Linked DNA regions of Homo sapiens. The protein of the gene in region 1 purifies or fractionates together with the protein of each later gene. This does not show direct contact. Each region holds a gene or a part of one and is shown on either strand. Other genes may lie near its edges.

Region 1 (3,988 bases):
TCCGGCCTCCCTGGGGGAGTGCCCAGACCAGGAACTGCTTGAGGCAGAGGTGGCACTGTTCTGTGGCCAGGAACACAAATTCCTTAGTCCAACAGATGTGTGTCCAGAAACCATGATGATCAGAAGATCATGGCTGGACAATCAGGTCCAGCAGAAGCTGGTCACAAGGGAGGACAGACGCAGCAGAAGTACACACAGCACAAGACCCAGGTGGGCAGGGGTTGGGGGAGACAGTGGCAGGCCACCTGCACCTCCAGCCCCTCTTCTCCCTGCAGGGCTGAGTCAGGGCCAAAGATGGCCACCTCCCTGCCTGGTCCTGGTGGGGGTCACGTGAGGAAAAGGTGACTCAGACTCTGACACCTGCTGAGGGAGCAGCCAGGCAGGAGGAGTACCGGTGTGCCGAGCGCCCAGGGTCAGCCATACCTGCCTCACCTGTGGTCTCCCCAGCAGGCCCCACCTGTGGCCCAGGCCTTCTGCCTGCCACCCAGAGCAGCAGGATTCCTCTCACAATCCTTGGCTCAGCCGCAGCCCCACGTGGCTCTCCACATGCATCCTGCCTACCCCTCGGCAGCTGCCAGGCCCAGTCCCCCATCCCTGAGGGTGGCCCTTGCTTCCTGCTGCACGCCCTCTACCCCCGGGCGCTGCCAGGGCCTGTCCTCAGCCTCCATTCCAGCCCAGCCTTGCCACCCCAACCTCGGTCCATTTTTTGTTTTTTTGTTGTTGTTGTTGTTGTTGTTGTTTTTGAGACACGGTCTCACTCCCGCCGCCCAGGCTAGTGTGCAGTGGCACGATCTCGGCTCACTGCAGCCTTAACCTCCTGTGTTCAAGCGATCCACCCATCTCAGCCCCGCAAGTAGCTAGGACTACAGGCACGTGCCACCACACCTGGGTTTTGTTTTTTGTTTTTTGTTTTTCTTATAGAGACAGGGTTTTGCCATGCTGTCCAGGCTGGTCTCAAACTCCTAAGCTCAAGCAATCCACCTGCCTCAGCCTCCCAAAGTGTTGGGATTACAGGCATGAGCCACGGTACCCAGCTCTGCTCTGATTTTGAATCCATGCTCTGTTAGCCAGGCCCTCCTCGGGCCAGACCCCATACTGTGTTCATGCTGAAAATCCGGAACACCAGTAATCCTCCTGTGGACCAGCAGACAGCCCAACAGAAGCACATGGGCATGAGCAGGCACAGAGGAGGGTGGGCGTGGCTGAAGCAAGGAGAGGAGGCCTGGGGACTGGAAATGCTGCCGTGCTTTTAACACTCCTGACAGACTGCACATCCCCACCTTGAATCCCGCAAATGCTGGGACCCAGCTGGGTGCAGTGGCTCACACCTGTAATCCCAGCACTGTGGGAGGCCAAGGCGGGTGGATCACTTGAGGTCAGGAGTTCAAGACCAGCCTGGCTGACATGGTGAAACCCCATCTCTACTAAAAATACAAAAAAGGCCGGGCACGGTGGCTCATGCCTGTAATCCCAGCACTTCGGGAGGCCAAGGCAGGCAGATCACCTGAGGTCAGGAGTTCCAGACCAGCCTGACCGACATGGAGAAACCCCATCTCTACTAGAAATACGAAATTAGCTGGGCATGGTGGCACATGCCTGTAATCCCAGCTACCAGGGAGGCTGAGGCAGGAGAATCGCTTGAACCTGGGAGGCGGAGGTTGCAGTGAGCCGAGATCGCGCCACTGCACTCCAGCCTGAGCAACAAGAGTGAAACTCCATCTCAAAAAAAAAATACAAAAATTAGCCAGGCATGGTGGCACACGCCTGTAATCCCAGCTACTTGGGAGGCTGAGGCATGAGGATCACTTAAACCCAGGAGGCAGAGGTTGCAGTGAGCTGAGATCGCACAAATGCACTTTAGCCTGGGTGACAGAGCGAGACTTCATCTCAAAAAGAAAAAAAAAAGAAAAATGCTGGAACCCACAGAGGATGCCGGAAAGGGGGCAGTGGTCCCCAGACTAACCCGTATGCCAGCCAAGCACCCTCAAGTGATCCCAGCTGGTGGCACAGAACTGAAGATTAACCCTGCCCTCACTGTCCAGATTCCTAACCCACAACGCTGTGAGATATAATAAAATGGTTGTGTTAACTGTTTTAAGAATGGTGTCTGACTTGAGGTGACCGCGACTTTTACGTAGCAGTAGGTAACTGGAACAGATGTCCAACCTCACTAGAAATTACAGAAAACCCGGCCGGGCGCAGTGGCTCAGCCTGTAATCCCAGCACTGTGGGAGGCCGAGGCGGGCAGATCACGAGGTCAGGAGATCGAGATCATCCTGGCTGACACGGTGAAACCCCCGTCTCTACTAAAAATACAAAAAATTAGCCGGGTGTGGTGGCGGGCGCCTGTAGTCCCAGCTACTCAGGAGGCTGAGGCAGGAGAATGGCGTGAACCCGGAAGGTGGAGCTTGCAGGGAAAGCCCAAATGACCTACCATTTCAATCCATCAGATTGACAAATATTAAATGTCTCGACACAGCTGGGCGCAGTGGCTCACGCCTGTAATCCCAACACTTTGGGGGGCCAAGGCGAGCGGATTGCTTGAGGCCAGAAGTGTGACAGCAGCCTAGGTAACACGGTGAAACCCCATCTCTACCAAAACTACCAAAGATTAGCTGGGTGTGGTGGCGCGTGCCCCTGGTCCCAGTCACTCAGGAGGCTGTGGTGGGAGCCCCGGAGGAAGGAGTTGCAGTGAGCCAAGATTGTACCACTGCACTCCAGTCTGGGTGACAAAGTGAGACCTCATCTCAAATAAAATCAATGTCTTGGGGCCAGGCACAGTGGCTCACGCCTGTAATCCCAGCACTTTAAGAGGCTGAGGCGGGCGGATCACCTGAGGTTCGGAGTTCCAGGCCCGCCTGACCAACACGGAGAAACCCCGTCTCTACTAAAAATACAAAATTAGCCAGGCCTGGTGGCGCGTGCCTGTAGTCCCAGCTACTCGGGAGTCTGAGGCAGAAGAATCACTTGAACCAGGGAGGCAGAGGTTGCGGTGAGCAGCTGAGATTGCACCACTGCACTCCAGCCTGGGTAACAAGAGCAACGTAAATAAATAAATAAATAAATAAATGTCTCAACACACGTTGGAGGGAGGTGGAACACAAACACCCCTTATTCCAGTCAAACTGCAGACAAGTACGAGGTTCTGGCAAAGAGTGGGACAGGTCTACTGTAATTTTACCTGTGCATACCAGGAGACCCAGAATTCCGCTTAGAATCTCATGGTATTTAACCGGGAGCCTCACACGCCACTGCTCCTACTAGCAAAGCATCGCGAAAACCGTCATGGGACATTGACTCCACAAAAACAAACAGTATGCAACTGACCCTTGGGTCATCCTAAGGGTCCAGGTTCTGTGATCTTCCCAACGCCCATGCAGATGGCCCCGTTTTGCACATACACCAAGGCTCTTTGAGATGACTCTGCCAGAGTAAGCAGCCTCCAACCACTGTCCAAAGTGAAACCTGTCCCGAGCTGCCCCACACACTCCTCAGTAAGAACACGGGAGGCAAGGGGCTCCCGCACAGCTGCCAGCTGCTTCCCTGCCAAAACACCTGGAGCTGCTCCTCTGCCTCTCAGCAACTGCTTCAGGTCAGGCTGGGTGAATTTCCCAGGGAGCCCGTTTTCACTGGCCAGGCCAATGGCAGCGGCCATGTTTCTGCCTTTTCAAATCATCGAATCAGGCAGGACCACAGGATGCAGTTCTGCCCACGGAGAAGCCAGAGCAATACATGGGGTCCATTGTGAGGGGTCTCCCTGCTGCTGGCGGCATACGACCCCGCTCCCTCTTCTTTCCAGCTTGCAGACTGCTTGTGATGGCAGAACACGCTGAAGGGAACCGAGCCTTTCGCAACAGGAAAGCCACCAGGCAGGGCTTGGCTGCAGGACTGAGTGGCTCAGTGGCAGTCCCCTAGTCAGAGTGTGACTTCTTCCGCCTTCTGGACTTGAACGTTGCACCTCTTTGCAGGGGCCCTGCAAGCCCTGTCC
Region 2 (3,988 bases), on another chromosome or scaffold:
CTGACCTAATTCATTCTCTAGTTCATTGTCAGGTGTATCATTACTTGCCTCATCTTTGTGGTTTGTAGGGCATTGGGACTATAAGTGGGTCTAGTCCACTTTCTACAAGGCTTGGCATGGTCCCACTGAAGGCATTCAGTTGTAAAGGGGACTGTCCCTAAATCCAGGGCACCCTGATCTGGGAGCTTTGGCTCTGAGTAAGAAAGCTTGTAATGGCTGTACTAGTTAATGAAGTGACTGTGAAACAACTCTGTTTCAGCTAGTAGAAAGAGGAATTGCTCTCTCTCTCTTTTTTTAAATGTCCCTTTTTAAACAATATTTCAAACGCATACAGAAGTAATGGGAATAGTACATACAGTGAATTCCTTGCATCCACTATCCAGCTTCAACAATTACCAACTCATGGGTGATCTTAATCTTATTTATTTTTCTTTTTTAATTTTTGTAAGTACCTAGTAGGTGTATATATTTATGGGGTACATGAGATTTTTCTTTTTTTTTTCTTCGCTCAGGCTGGAGTGCACTGGCACAATCTTGACTCACTGCAACCTCAGCCTCCTGGGTTCAAGCGATTCTCCTGCCTCAGCCTCCCAAGTAGCTGGGATTACAGGCGTGCACCACCATGCTTGACTAATTTTTTGTATTTTTAGTAGAGACAGGGTTTCACCATGTTGACCAGGCTGGTCTTGAACTCCTAACCTCAAGTGATCCACCTGCCTCAGCCTCCCAGAGTGCTGGGATTACAGGCCTGAGCCTCCGCGCCCGACCTGAGATGTTTGGATATAGGCATGCAGTGTGAAATAAGCACATCATGGAGAATGGGGTATCCATCCCCTCAAGCATTTATCCTTTGTGATACAAAAATTCAATTACCCTCTTTTAGTTAAGTATCTTTTCTAATGCCTTTAATTAAAAAAACTTTATTTTGAAGTAATTTAAAACTTCAAAATAAGCAAGAAAAGAGCAAGAATAACACAGAGAACTCCCTATATCCCAGATTAACCAATTTTCAATGTTATTTTTGTCATATTTGGGGTATGGGGAGATCTTTTTGTTGTTTTTTTAAGAGTCAGAGTCTATCTTATCTTGCCCAGGCTGGTCTCAAATGTCTGGCCTCACATGCTCCTCCTGCCTCAGCCTCCTGAGTAGCTGCGATTATAGGCATGAGCCATCATGCCCAGCTTTTTTTTTTTTTTTGAGACGGAGTCTTGCTCTGTTGCCCAGGCTGGAGTGCAGTGGCGCAATCTCGGCTCACTGCAAGCTCCACCTCCCAGGTTCACGTCATTCTCCTGCCTCAGCCTCCCGAGTAGCTGGGACTATAGGCGCCCACCACCACACCCAGTTAATTTTTTGTATTTTTAGTAGAGACAGGGTTTCACCATATTAGCCAGGATGGTCTCATCTCGATCTCCTGACCTTGTGATCTGCCTGCCTCAGCCTCCCAAAGTACTGGGATTACAGACATGAGCCACCGCGCCCGACCTTTTTTTTTTTTTTTTTTTTTTTTGGCGACAGAGTCTCCCTCTGTTGCCCAGGCTGGAGTGCAATGGCACTATCACAGCTCACTGCGACATCCACCTCCCGGGTTCAAGCGATTTTCCTGCCTCAGCCTCCTGAGTACCTGGGATTACAGGTGCATGCCACCACGCCTGGCTAATTTTTTTATTTTTGGTAGAGACGGGGGTTTCACCATGTTGGTCAGGCTGGTCTTGAACTCCTGACCTCGTGATCCACCCGCCTTGGCCTCCCGAAATGCTGCGATTACAGGCGTGAGCCACCATGCCCGACCTTTTTTTTTTTTAAATCATATTTGCATTGTCCTTCATTCTCTATTTCCCCCTCCCTACCCCCATCCTCTTGCCTCTCCCACCACAGTTATTTCTGAACTATTTGAGAATAGATTGCAGATTTCACCCCTTAATATTTGTATATATTTCCCAAGAACAAGGATACTGTTTTATGTAACCACAGACAGTACAGTTATCAAACTCAGGAAATTTAATACTGATGCTTTTATCTACAGCTTATATTGCAGTTTTGTCAGTTGTCCTAATAATGGCCTTTATAGCAAATTTATTCCTATAGGATCACACGTCTCATAGTTGCCCTAAGGCCTTTGAGTTCATTTAGCATGCAAGTCTTTAAATGGTTGCCTTTTATATTGTTCAAATGATTAGCATCCTATTAAGTTTGGCCCACATAAATTTGTACACACACCTCCACCCCCACCCCCAGTCCTTTTGAGGGCAGATTGGACAAAAATATCAAGTTCAGGAGGTGTCCAACATGACTAGTTCCAGGAACTAAGTGACATATGGGAAAAGTGTCCTGCAGCTAATGGGCAGGTGCCAGGTAGGGAAAGGAGGGTTGAAATGGAGTGAGCAGAACATACCCTGGCGTTTGACTAATTTATGTTGGAGAAAAGGTCATGGGTTTACCGAAAATAGCAAAGAGATATTTCCTAGCAGAAGGAGAGAGATTGGATTTGCATTTAAATAATGCAGTTTTTAGGCCAGGAGCTGTGGCTCATGCCTGTAATCCCAACACTTGGAAGGCCAAGGTGGGCGGATCACTTGAGGTTAGGAGTTTGAGACCAGCCTGGCCAACATGGCAAAACCCCGTCTCTGCGAAAAATACAAAAATTGGCTGGGTGCGGTGGCTTTACGCCTGTAATCCCAGAACTTTGGGAGGCCAAGGCAGATGGATCACCTGAGGTCAGGAGTTCAAGACCAGCCTGACCAACATGATGAAACCCTGTCTCTACTAAAAATACAAAAAATTAGCCAGGCGTGGTGGCAAGCGCCTGTAATCCCAGCTACTTGGAAGGCTGAGGCAGCAGAATCTCTTGAACCCAGCAGGCGGAGTTTGCAGTGAGCCAAGATCATGCCATTGCACTCCAACCTGGGCAACAAGAATGAAACTCTGTTTCGGGCGGGGGGAAAAAATAGAAACAGCCGGGTGTGGTGGTATGTGCCTGTAGTCCCAGCTACTTGGGAGACTGAGGCAAGAGAATCATTTGAACGCAGGAGGCGGAGGTTGCCGTGAGCCAAGATCGCACCACTGAACTCCAGCCTGGGCGACAGAGTAAGACTCCGTCTCAAAAAATAAGTAAATAAATAAATAAGCAGTTTTTAGCAAGCATGTAACCTTCATCCTCTCCTTGGTGTTTTTCTGGCAAACCCTCGCACCTATCTGACTGCAGTTTTGTCCTTGTTCCAGGTGTGCTGGAGGAAGCGGAGTTTTACAACATCGCGTCCCTTGTGCGGCTGGTTAAGGAAAGGATACGGGACAATGAGAACAGAACTTCACAAGTAATGTATTTGGAACTGTTAAGGAGGGTTGTTTCAAGTGGGCTTCTGTCGGTCGGTCTGTGATTTGAAAAGGATGCCTTTACCCTTAGAGCTGGAGGTGTGTGTGGAACACCGTTTGCAGTGCAGGGAATGCACACTCAGCCAAACTGCACAGGAGAAAAGAAGAAACCACAAAGAAAACAGAATAGGCCTATGTCCCAATAGAATGAGAAGATTGTCGCTGCTTACCAGATGGCGGGAGGAGGCGCCCAGGGCACTTTAGGTCTAAAACCTGTTCTCTGCCCGAGTATGTCTCCCTCCTAAAGACCATAGAGGTCTTGGTTGCACCCGTTGGCCGCTCTTTTTTTTTTTATGAGATGGAGTCTCGCCCTGTCGCCCAGGCCGGAGTGCAGTGGTGCAATCTCGGCTCACTGCAACCTCTGCCTCCCAGGTTCAAGTAATTCTCCTGCCTCAGCCTCCCGTGTAGCTGGGACTACAGGTGTGTGCCACCACGCCTGACTAATTTTTGTATTTTTTTAGTAGAGATGGGGTTTCACCATGTTGGTCAGGCTGGTCTCGAACTCCCGACCTCAGGTGATCTGCCCGCCTCAGCCTCCCAAAGTGCTGGGATTACAGGCGTGAGGCACTGCGCCCAGCTTGGCCACTCTTTATGGAGATGAGCCTTTAGCATGTGATCG

Evidence for each region. The genes of interacting proteins can lie anywhere in the genome.
Region 2: the proteins of ARRDC1 (region 1) and KCTD2 purify together in Homo sapiens (affinity purification with mass spectrometry; 4 studies listed by BioGRID and IntAct, with this or other methods). This does not show direct contact.

What each region holds. Positions count from the first base shown.
Region 1 is NC_000009.12:137,608,315-137,612,302, reverse strand, and holds part of ARRDC1 (arrestin domain-containing protein 1), read right to left. Parts: intron 1-3,988. UniProt on the Homo sapiens protein: Functions as an adapter recruiting ubiquitin-protein ligases to their specific substrates. Through an ubiquitination-dependent mechanism plays for instance a role in the incorporation of SLC11A2 into extracellular vesicles.
Region 2 is NC_000017.11:75,049,795-75,053,782, forward strand, and holds part of KCTD2 (BTB/POZ domain-containing protein KCTD2), read left to right. Parts: intron 1-3,219; coding exon 3,220-3,311; intron 3,312-3,988.